Homo sapiens: one gene and its partners. The protein of the gene in region 2 purifies or fractionates together with the protein of the main gene of each other region. This does not show direct contact. Each region holds a gene or a part of one and is shown on either strand. Other genes may lie near its edges.

Region 1 (3,650 bases), on a different chromosome or scaffold from region 2:
CCCACAAGCCATATGCAGCCCAGCATGGCCTGGAATGTGGCCCAACACAAATTCATAAACTTTCTTAAAACATGAGTTTTTTTTATTTTTTTGCATGGTTTTTTTTTTTTTTTTTAGCTCATCAGCTATCGTTAGTGTTATTTTATGTGTGGCCCAAGACAATTCTTCTTCCATTGTGGCCCAGAGAAGCCAAAAGATTGGACATTCCTGGTCTAAAGCAAGGACTGCCTGTTGTTTCTTTACTTAACTGTACATTTTTTAGATTTTGACTTAATTCTGTAAATACTTGTATATTTAGATAATGTAAAAACTGTTATTTAGTTCTAGAAACCTTAATTTCTTATTTGCCCCTGATTAGTCACTTGGACTATAGACAATCAAAAGTGATAGTAATCATTTGAGAAGGCCAGGTGCAATGGCTCATGCCTGTAATCCTAGCACTTTGGGAGGCTGAGGTGGGCAGATCACTTGAGCTCCGGAATTCAAGACCAGCCTGGGCAACATGGCAAAACCCGTCTCTATAAAAAATACAAAAATTAGCTTGGTGCAATGGTGTACATCCGTGGTCTCAGCTACTCAGGAGGCTGAGGTGGGAGGATCATCTGAGCCCAGGAGATCATGCCTCTGCACTCCATCCTGGGCAACAGAGTGAGACCCTCTCTAAAAAAATTGCCGGGTCCAGTGGCTCACCCCTATAATCCCAGCACTTTGGGAGACTGAGGTGAGCAGGTCACCTGAGGTCAGGAGTTCGAGACCAGCATGGCCAACATGGCGAAACCCCGTCTCTACGAAAAATAAAAAATTAGCGGGGTGTGGTGGCAGGCACCTGTAATCCCAGATATTGGGAGGCTGAGGCATGAGAATCACTTGAACCCAGGAGGCAGAGGTTCCATTGAGCCGAGATGGCACCACTGCATGTCAGCCTGGGTGACAACATTGAAACTAGCCCCCCAAAAATAAAAATAAAATTTAAAATAAATTTTAAAATAAATTTTTAAGTAAATGTTTAGGGGAAATGAGTTTTCAACTTAAGCTAAACAGAATAAACTTAGATAAAGTAGGTGAAATACAGATATCTCTAAAAAATTTCAGAATCCTAAAGGCAATGTAGTTCAGAAGATTTTATTGGAAATACTAGAGAGAGTGTTGAGGAGGAAAAGGAAGTTGAAATGGACTTGATAAAATAACTTGATAAAATAACCTGAAACTGATCACCTTGCAAATTTGAATTTATCTGACTTAGCTTTCTATTATTCATTCAATAGCACGAATTCTATTGCAGATCTGATTATAAGCTCAGGTCTGTAAAAGCTGTGGAAAACAAAACAGTTCAGATTGTCTTGAATCTAGAGTTTGCTTTCCAAGACTCTCCCTCTAAACCTGTTAACTCTTAAGAAATCCTCTTGCCTTTCCCTAGTGAGTATACAAAATACCTACTACAGTTACTGGCACATGTTACCAGCAAACCAGCCCCTGTGCCCTTCATATTCTTGCCAACACTAAGAACAAACTATTTAATCTGTCTCACTGTTGTTTTCGTTTGGTGAATACATTTCAAAAAGGTTATAATGTATAAAGTTTGTACAAACTCTTTTTTTTTTTTTTTTTTTTTAAGGTATGATGAGTGGGTGAAGGCTGACAGGATAATCTGGCCTTTGGACAAAGGTGGACCAAAGAAAAAACAGAAGAAAAAAGCTAAAGTATGTTTGTAGATTTATGTCCTTTATAATATGTATAGGAATTATCCAAATTGTATTGTGTGTTTTTTAAGACTTTAAGAACAGTTTTAGGTTTATACCAAGATTGAGAGCAAGGTATATAGACCTCCCATATACTCTCTGCCCCATGCATGCATAGCCTTCCCAGATTGTCAACATCCCCCACCAGAGTGGGATGTTTGTTACAACTGATGTGCCTACATTGACACATTATTGTCACTCAGAGTCCATCGTTTACATTAGGGTTCACTGTTGGTGTTGTATATTCTGTAGGTTTTGACAAATATATAATGACATGGATCCATCACTATAGTATCATACAGAGTAGCTTTACTGCCCTAAAAATCCTTTATGTTCTGCTTATTCTTACCCCCACCCCAGCCCCTGACAACTACAGACTTTTTCTCTCTCCATAGTTTTTGCCTTTTTGAGAATATCATATAATTGGAATCATACACCATATAGCCTTTTTAGATTGGCTTCTTTTGCTTAGTAATATGCATATACGATATTGTGTTTGTTTAATAAATCTTATTGTAATAATCATCTTGGCCGGGCATGGTGGCTCATGCCTGTAATGCCAGCACTTTGGGAGGCTGAGGCGGGCGGATCACGAGGTCAGGAGATCAAGACCATCCTGGCTAACACGGTGAAACCCCATCTCTACTAAATATAGAAAAAATTAGCCGGTCGTGGTGGCCGGCGCCTGTAGTCCCAGCTACTCGGGAGGCTGAGGCAGGAGAATGGCGTGAACCCAGGAGGCGGAGCTTGCAGTGAGCCAAGATCGCGCCACTGCGCTCCAGCCTGGGCGACAGAGCAAGACTCCGTCTCAAAAAAAAAAAAAAAAATCTTGATTCTTGACAGATAATTGTGATTTTCTCTTTATAACCCAGGAGCTTAAAACTAACACATTACCACATTGTTTCAGCAAAGGTGAAAACCAGCAACCCCTAGGGCATGACTTTCAAACTCAAATTCCTGTAGAGGCTTTATAGGAGAAGGATAAAGTAGGACGAACCGTGACAAACGAGAGGTCACATTCCTCATTTAGACGGAATGGAACTAACCACTCTGCTGTGGGAATGCAGACCCAGGGTTGCCAGATTTTAGGATTTTTCAAGACCACTATCTTTCTTAAAATGTGAAATTTGACTTTTAAATGCTAGAAGCCAATACTAAAATTTTAAAACACATATATACTGGCCAATTGTACCCTCACCCACATCCTCAGTTGTCAAGCTTTGCTGTAGAGATTTGCCCATTGTTTTGTCTACTGGATGATAGATATCTTTCCTTTCTGCAGGGGATAGTAGGGAACAGCGGGGAGTGCGGAATAGTTGTATAGTCTTCTAAAGCTCTAACTGACCATCACAATATAATTGCAGTATTACAAATTGTACAATATTGTATTTACATAAATACAAAATATGTTAGAAATTCAGCAGTGGAGGATTATATACCAATTTCCGTGACACTAATGTTAATAAGTTCTGATAACCTCTCAGACCAGCCAGAAAACTCTTCTTGATTCTTCTGTAAGCACAGACTAGGAAGTGACATATAAAATATCAAACCTTTTTTGAGATGTAGTTTTCTTTGGATAAGTAGAATGTTCATTTTTCGTAAAGCATTGGCCCTTCTCATACATTTTGTTGTTGTTGCCCAGAATAAAGAAGATAGTGAAAAGGACGAAAAGAGAGATGAGGAGAGGCAGAAGTCAAAACGGGGACGACCTCCTTTAAAATCAACCCTCTCATCAAACATGCCGTATGGCTTATCTAAGACAGCAAACAGTGAAGGAAAATCAGGTACCAGAAGTGCTCGCAGCAATATACCAGACAGCTCACCTCTGTCAAATGGAATGGAAGGTGCTCAATTTTGAGGATGGCTGACTTTAAAAAAAATCAATAACATAAATAATAAAACTTCCAT
Region 2 (3,750 bases):
GAGGGTGCATATTTTAATCCCCGTTTCCTTGTGTATTAAAAAAAAAATCTGAAAATGAAGAATTTCAGGGCAGACAGACTCATAGGTCAGGACTGAGAAATTTGCAAAACTGGAGCTGTCTGGGAGAAAATAGCTCTAAATCCACACTTTAGAACTCTGCGTTGTTTTGGGGGAAAATAAGAGTCACCAACGTTCTCACTTAGCGACAAGTTTAATTCGTACTCATGGACATGCGCCAGGATCAGGTGTGAAAGCTGTGAAATCTAGGTCCAAAAATTCTGAAGAGGATGCTGCTTGTATCCTCCCCTGGCGGCTAGCTGCCTTCTAACTTCAAGTTGTGGCTCAATGCTTGGATTTCTCTGCTCCTGGACATTAGTGTCTGCGAAGCAGAAATGCAATAACTTTCGAACAATCCCTTGCTTTGCTTGGAAAGTCTCGCACTTGGCCACCAGACATCACCGAACTCAGCGCTTGTCTCCTGCAGCAATTCCGTGGCTCGCTGAACGGCTGCCACTGGCGCCCCCAAGCGCCAGCGCGTCCCAGTCGTTCCCGGAGCAGCCTTCGACCTTCGGCCGAAGGGAATTGGACCTGGAGAGACCCGGGGGCTGACAGGAATGGCTTCTCTTGTAATTCACTGGGGCTAGAAGGCAGGAAGCCAAGGAAGACAGGATCTCAAAGGCTCCCTGCCCCCGTTCATTCCTATCTGGGATTTCCTATTCGCAAAAAGAGCAGTTGCCTGGCATGGTAAAGATGCTCATTCGAGCTGTGAGGTCCAAACCCTTGGAGCGTACCCAGAGCATCCCCTTCTTCCCAGTCCCTCAGAGACATAGACATATTCTACGAGTGCGGCGGGGCCCGGGGTTCCGAAGGAGGAGACTAAAAAGACCCAAATCGAACAGGCTCATCTTTTCCCCTCTTTGGTCTGCCCCTTTCCTTCCAGACCCTCTATCCGGATCATTGGCCACCCCCTGGCGCACCTATGTGGCTCCAGCTTCACACACTCCCTGGGAGGCACAGTCTAAAACCAAACGTGAGCTCACAAAGAACACAATACTAATGAGCAGATGCGCAGATGCTCACTTCTCTAAAGCTTCCATAGGGCTTTTCCAGCTCTCCTCGCGGAGTCAGGGGCTGAAGATGGGTGGGAAGATCTAAGAAAGGGTGGCAGCGATCAAGTGGTGTCAGCTTGCCCCACTCCGTTTCCACCTTTGGTCTCTGCCAGTTTCCAAAGACCCCTCCAACCGCTGGAGTTGTTGTCAGGAATTAGGAGCCCCTATGTTCCATTCACCTCATGGAAAAGCTAGATCCCCCTTTTCCAGTAGTTGTGGGTGGAGACAGAGCGGGAGGATGAGGAGGAGGAAAAGCTGGAGTGAAAGCCGCAGAAGCAGAAGCAGCACGCAGAGAGGAGGGGGGCGGAAGCGGTGGGGAGTGAGAGAAAAATTTTCACTCTTTGTCACTCTTGAATTGGGGGCGGAGGTAAAAAAAAAAAAAAAGTCCTCACTGTGGGAAGCTATAAAAAGCAAAGAGGACTGGGGAGAGAGCAGAGAGAGAGAAAGCGGGAGCCCGCGGCGAGCGTAGCGCAAGTCCGCTCCCTAGGCATCGCTGCGCTGGCAGCGATTCGCTGTCTCTTGTGAGTCAGGGGACAACGCTTCGGGGCAACTGTGAGTGCGCGTGTGGGGGACCTCGATTCTCTTCAGATCTCGAGGATTCGGTCCGGGGACGTCTCCTGATCCCCTACTAAAGCGCCTGCTAACTTTGAAAAGGAGCACTGTGTCCTGCAAAGTTTGACACATAAAGGATAGGAAAAGAGAGGAGAGAAAAGCAACTGAGTTGAAGGAGAAGGAGCTGATGCGGGCCTCCTGATCAATTAAGAGGAGAGTTAAACCGCCGAGATCCCGGCGGGACCAAGGAGGTGCGGGGCAAGAAGGAACGGAAGCGGTGCGATCCACAGGGCTGGGTTTTCTTGCACCTTGGGTCACGCCTCCTTGGCGAGAAAGCGCCTCGCATTTGATTGCTTCCAGTTATTGCAGAACTTCCTGTCCTGGTGGAGAAGCGGGTCTCGCTTGGGTTCCGCTAATTTCTGTCCTGAGGCGTGAGACTGAGTTCATAGGGTCCTGGGTCCCCGAACCAGGAAGGGTTGAGGGAACACAATCTGCAAGCCCCCGCGACCCAAGTGAGGGGCCCCGTGTTGGGGTCCTCCCTCCCTTTGCATTCCCACCCCTCCGGGCTTTGCGTCTTCCTGGGGACCCCCTCGCCGGGAGATGGCCGCGTTGATGCGGAGCAAGGATTCGTCCTGCTGCCTGCTCCTACTGGCCGCGGTGCTGATGGTGGAGAGCTCACAGATCGGCAGTTCGCGGGCCAAACTCAACTCCATCAAGTCCTCTCTGGGCGGGGAGACGCCTGGTCAGGCCGCCAATCGATCTGCGGGCATGTACCAAGGACTGGCATTCGGCGGCAGTAAGAAGGGCAAAAACCTGGGGCAGGTAGGAAAACCCCCAAACACATTCTTCAGACAGAAGAGGCAGGGGCCAGCTCTCTTGGGCTAGCGGTTTGCCATTGCATCTTGCAACATTCGGAGCGTGGCCCCAGATACAGAGAACAGGCGGCTGGGGAGGGATTCACCGAACAGGGTCTGCGTGGGCGGGGGGTGTCTGGGTGGCTGCTGGTCCTGCACTGCACGGAGTCAAAGGGTTAGGATTCTGTCTCGCCTTTGCTCTGGGGCGTGGGCACATATCAAGATCTAGTGCTTTCCTGTGGAGAAAGTGGTCAGGATGGTCCTTCCATTTAACACTGTGATGCAACTGATGAAGATGTTAATAGCATTTAACCTATAGCACCTAATAACGTGCCAGGCACAGTTCTAAGCGTTTTACATATTCACTCATTTAATCTTCACAACTCTGTGAGCTAGATGCTGTTGCTTTCCCATTCTGCTAATGAAGTAATTGAGGCACGGATTGATTAACGATTTGCCCAAGGCACACAGCTAGTATAAGTGGCAGAGAGGGATTTCAGTCTAGACATTGAGATACTGGGCGTTTAACCATTATATTTTACAATCTGGAGGGGACATTACTCCTTTTCAGGGTCTCCTTCCCTTCCAACCACTTACTCTCTTCAAAGAAGTAAGGTCACAGACAAAACAACTCCAGTAGACGCGCATTTCTCACTCACGCAGAATTGTACATAAATCACCCGGAAGGAAGCAAAATGATGAGATGACAATGACAGCGTCGTAGGCGCCAGCGATACAGCAGGACACTGAAGGCGTTTTTGAGAGAGGGAACTTTCCGCAGGCGCCTCTGTCTCTGTCATACAGACAGATAGATTGAAAGCCACTTGCAAACTGTTATACAAATAGACACGCACAGAGACGAGCGCGCACACTCGGTACCAGTTGTGGCTGGCGCGCTGTGGCCAGGAGAGGGGGCTCTGTGGGCACTGGGAATCATGACAGCTCCCCCTTCCGCTCCTTTTGTGGGAAGCCAAAACTGAGAAAGCCATTTTACCAATGGCACACGCACCTCGCACAACACAAGTGTCAACCCCTGGCAGCGGCCCACGCCCCAGAGATCCGAGTTTCCTTGGAACCGACTGATGCTGCTGTTTTGCGCGCTCTCGGTGTCCTCCGCCGCCCCTGTCCACAGCGCAGCCAGCCGGCTGAAGGTTGGTTGAGAGGGCCGAGCCATTCTGGGATGGACAGAGAGACAAGACCCGGGCTTGGCCCCCTACTGCCCTCTCACGGGGACA
Region 3 (3,650 bases), on a different chromosome or scaffold from region 2:
ACATTGAGACCATCCTGGCCAACATGGTGAAACCCTGTCTCTACTAAAAATACAAAAATTATCCAGGCGTGGTGGCGCATGCCTGTAGTCCCAGCTACTCAGGAGGCTGAGGTGGGAGAATCACTTGAACCCAGGAGGCAGAGATTGCAGTGAGCCGAGATCGTACCCCTGCACTCCAGCCTGGCGACAGAGCAAGACTCTCTCTCAAAAAAAAAAAAAGGTGCAGGAGTATCTGTGGGCTAGGGCAGAGTGTGTTGCTAAGTAGCACGGCCGTCTGCCTGTGTGGCTATGCTGATGGAAGAGGTATTTGTGATATGCCAGACTGATATCTCAGTCTTAGTGACTCTCACAGGGAAAACCTGGGACCACAGGAGAGAGGCAAGGCCCTTTGAGTGGGTATGGGAAGCTGGGTTGGGGGGCTCCTGATACAAATGGTAGGAGTGGCAGGGAAGGTCTAGGTAGCTCACCACTTTCAATGCCAAATTGCACCCGGCGATCTACATCATCTGCCCAGATGGCTTCTGGAGGTTCACGGTAAAGCAAGGGGAAGACTCCTCGGCATAAGTGGACCTGGCGGGCAGCCTGGGCAGAGCGGGTGACAGCAATGACTGCTGCCCGAGGTCGGTACCGAGACAGAAGCTGGGCTGAGCTGGAGGAGGCAGAGAAGGTCAGCCCAGAACAGCAAGAAAGTGGTGAACGAGGAAAGGAGAATCTTTGTTCCAGTTCCAGGTGTCACTAACAAGCTGTGTGACCCTGGGTAAGTCATCATACTTCTCTGGGCCTTGGTGTTCTCACCTGTAAAATGAGTGTAAGAATGCCTGCCTCCCAGGCCGGGAGCGGTGGCTCATGCCTGTAATCCCAGCACTTTGGGAGGCCGAGATGGGAGAATTGTTTGAGCCCAGGAGCTGGAGACCAGCCTAGGCAACATAGTGAGACCCCATCTCTGCATTAAGAAAAAAAAAAGAAAGAATGCCTGCCCTCCCTACCACACAAGAAAGATATGAGATAATACAGATATATCAAATGAGATAATAAGGAGAAATCTCTTTAAGAAATATAAAAGCTGGCCAGGCACAGTGGCTCATGCCTATAATCCCAGCACTTTGGGAGGCCAAGGAGGGTGGATCACCTGAGGTCAGGAGTTTGAGACCAGCCTGGCTAACATGATGAAACCCTGTCTCTACTAAAAATACAAAAAATATGCAGGGCGTTGTGGCATGCGCCTGTAATCCCAGCTACTCGGAAGGCTGAGGCAGGAGAATCACTTGAACTTGGGAGGTGAAGGTTGTGGTGAGCTGAGATTGCACCATTTTACTCCAGCCTGAGCAACAGAGCGAGCTGCCGTTCTCAAAAGAAAAACAAAACAAAACAAACAAACAAAAACCCAAGAGTATAAAACCCTTTTGAGAAAGTCCATTATGTGCTTAATTTACTATATAGATATTAAGTACTATCTAGTACTTAATATCTCCTGTTAATCCTGCCAACCCCATGAAGAACAAATCATTACCTTGTCCTGTTCATGAGGAAAGACAGCAGGCTAATAGAGCTACATTTCTGAGTAAAGACTTAAACTCAGACCTACTGGACCCTTCTGTAATACCTCAGTATTGGTAGGCTCTGTGGGCCGAATGGACTTGCCTCTGAGCCCCAGAAGCCCAAATGGCCTTGAAGCCAATGTGCCCAGTGATGCCGCTGTCCCCTTCCAGCCCCCAGAAGCTCACTGGCATTCTGTCTCTCCTGGCCTCCAGCTGTCATTGCTGCCTCTCCTCTTGTCTCAGGTGGACACTCTTCACCCCTGGTGACCAGACTAAACCCAAGCCTGGGGCCCGTCCCAGCCCACCCCTGACCCAAAGCTCCATCTGGACATTCCCAATATCCCCCTCACCGGCCAGTTGTGGTCAGCACAATGATGGCAGCAGCACAGCACTTGAAGGCAGCCTCCACAGCACCAATGGCGGTGACCTCAGTGGGATCACGGCTTAGTGGCGCTGCCCGACGTAGCTCCTCAAACAGCTGCCGGTGGTACACTGCGGCCTCTGCCTCCCGGGCAATCTGCAGGTGCCAGAATGTTAGTCTGGGAAGGGGCACTGGGGTATGGAAGGGATTTGGTTCCCTGGCCCATTTGCTTTTCATTCTGAGCTCCTACCGCATGCTGCATCTTCACCGCTTCCACAGGGAAGTTGCCCTTGGCAGTCTCCCCTGACAGCATGATGCAGTCAGCCCCATCCAGCACAGCATTGGCGACATCGCTTGTCTCTGCCCTCGTTGGCCGGGGCTTGGTAATCATGCTCTCCAGCATCTGGGGGACAGCGTGGATGTCAAAGTTGTAGGACTCACACTGTGACTGGGGACCCTGCCCAAGCTACTTCTCTGACACCCACACTCTCAGAGTGTCCCAAAATCCAGGGTCACAGTCACAACCCCTGAAAATAGGAGTCAAAGTATATTTAACTTTGTCGTTTGGTCACAACCCCTGAAAATAGGGGTCAAAGTATATTTAACTTTGTCGTTTGAGGATCAAACACTTTTCATCCAAATGTGCTATAAACCTACAGTGTGGGCTGGGTGCAGTGGCTCACACCTGTAATCCCAGCACTTTGGGAGGCCGAGGCGAGTAGATCACCTGAGGTCAGGAGTTCGAGACCAGTCTGGCCAACATGGTGAAACCCCGTCTCTACTGAAAATACAAAAAGTAGCCTGGCATGGCGGCGGTCACCTGTAATCCCCACTACTTGGGAGGCTGAGGCAGGAGAATTGTTTGAACCCAAGAGGCGGAGGTTGCAGTGAGCGGAGATTGCGCCACTGCACTCCAGCCTGGATGACAGAGTGAGACTCCGTCTCAAAAAACAAAACAAAACAAAATAAACCCCTACAGTGTGGGTATTCACCCACAGGTGTCCCTAAAACCCACAGAGTGCCGAACCTCAAGGCCTCACTCCAGACCTGTGTGGCACAGACAACAGGCTTGCCCGCCAAGTTGCAGCGCCCAATCATCATCTTCTGAGCCAGGAAAACCTTCTCTGCTGGGATCTCGATGCCTAGGTCCCCCCGTGCCACCATGATGCCGTCGCTCACCTCCAGGATTTCATCAAACCTGAGAGGTTGGGAGAATCAAGGCAGAGGCAGGCAGGAGAAGAAAGGTGATGGGGAATAGCGACAGGGCCGAAGGGGAACAGAGCCCAAGCCTCACCTCTTCACGCCTTCGTGGTTCTCAATTTTGCTGATGATCTTGATGCCGTGTCCTTCCGGACCCAGAGCAGCCCTGACGGCAGCCACGTCGCTGGCTTTCCGCACAAAGGAGGCAAAGACGATGTCCACCCCATGCTCCACCCCGAAGCGCAGGTCTCGGACGTCCTGCTCGGACAGCCCGGGCAAGTCCACCTGGGCCCCTGGCAAGTTCACGCCCTTCCGGCTGCCCAGGACGCCGCCGTTCTCCACTTGGGTCACCAGTCCCTCTGGGCCTGCGGACATGGAAAGAGCCAGCTGCGGTCAGGGGTGAGGACGGGGCACAGTTGCAGCAGAGAGGACACTGGGGCTTGGACCCGCAAGAGGTCAGGAACCATGTCCTCCTCATCTCTCCGCCCTTGTTCTGGGCTTCGCCCGGAAGAGGCACAGATGGACGTCCGTGGAAGAAACGACCCACCCAT

Evidence for each region.
Region 1: the proteins of DKK2 (region 2) and ARID4A purify together in Homo sapiens (affinity purification with mass spectrometry; one large-scale study listed by BioGRID and IntAct). This does not show direct contact.
Region 3: the proteins of DKK2 (region 2) and PKLR purify together in Homo sapiens (affinity purification with mass spectrometry; one large-scale study listed by BioGRID and IntAct). This does not show direct contact.

Annotation. Positions count from the first base shown.
Region 1 is NC_000014.9:58,357,517-58,361,166, forward strand, and holds part of ARID4A (AT-rich interactive domain-containing protein 4A), read left to right. Parts: intron 1-1,615; coding exon 1,616-1,700; intron 1,701-3,384; coding exon 3,385-3,526; coding exon of another isoform or gene 3,527-3,586; intron 3,587-3,650.
Region 2 is NC_000004.12:107,034,103-107,037,852, reverse strand, and holds the start of DKK2 (dickkopf-related protein 2 precursor), read left to right. Parts: upstream 1-1,539; 5' UTR 1,540-2,261; coding exon 2,262-2,483; intron 2,484-3,750. UniProt on the Homo sapiens protein: Antagonizes canonical Wnt signaling by inhibiting LRP5/6 interaction with Wnt and by forming a ternary complex with the transmembrane protein KREMEN that promotes internalization of LRP5/6.
Region 3 is NC_000001.11:155,291,289-155,294,938, forward strand, and holds part of PKLR (pyruvate kinase PKLR), read right to left. Parts: intron 3,465-3,650; coding exon 3,194-3,464; intron 3,098-3,193; coding exon 2,947-3,097; coding exon of another isoform or gene 2,927-2,946; intron 2,303-2,926; coding exon 2,150-2,302; intron 2,056-2,149; coding exon 1,889-2,055; intron 650-1,888; coding exon 468-649; intron 1-467. UniProt on the Homo sapiens protein: Pyruvate kinase that catalyzes the conversion of phosphoenolpyruvate to pyruvate with the synthesis of ATP, and which plays a key role in glycolysis.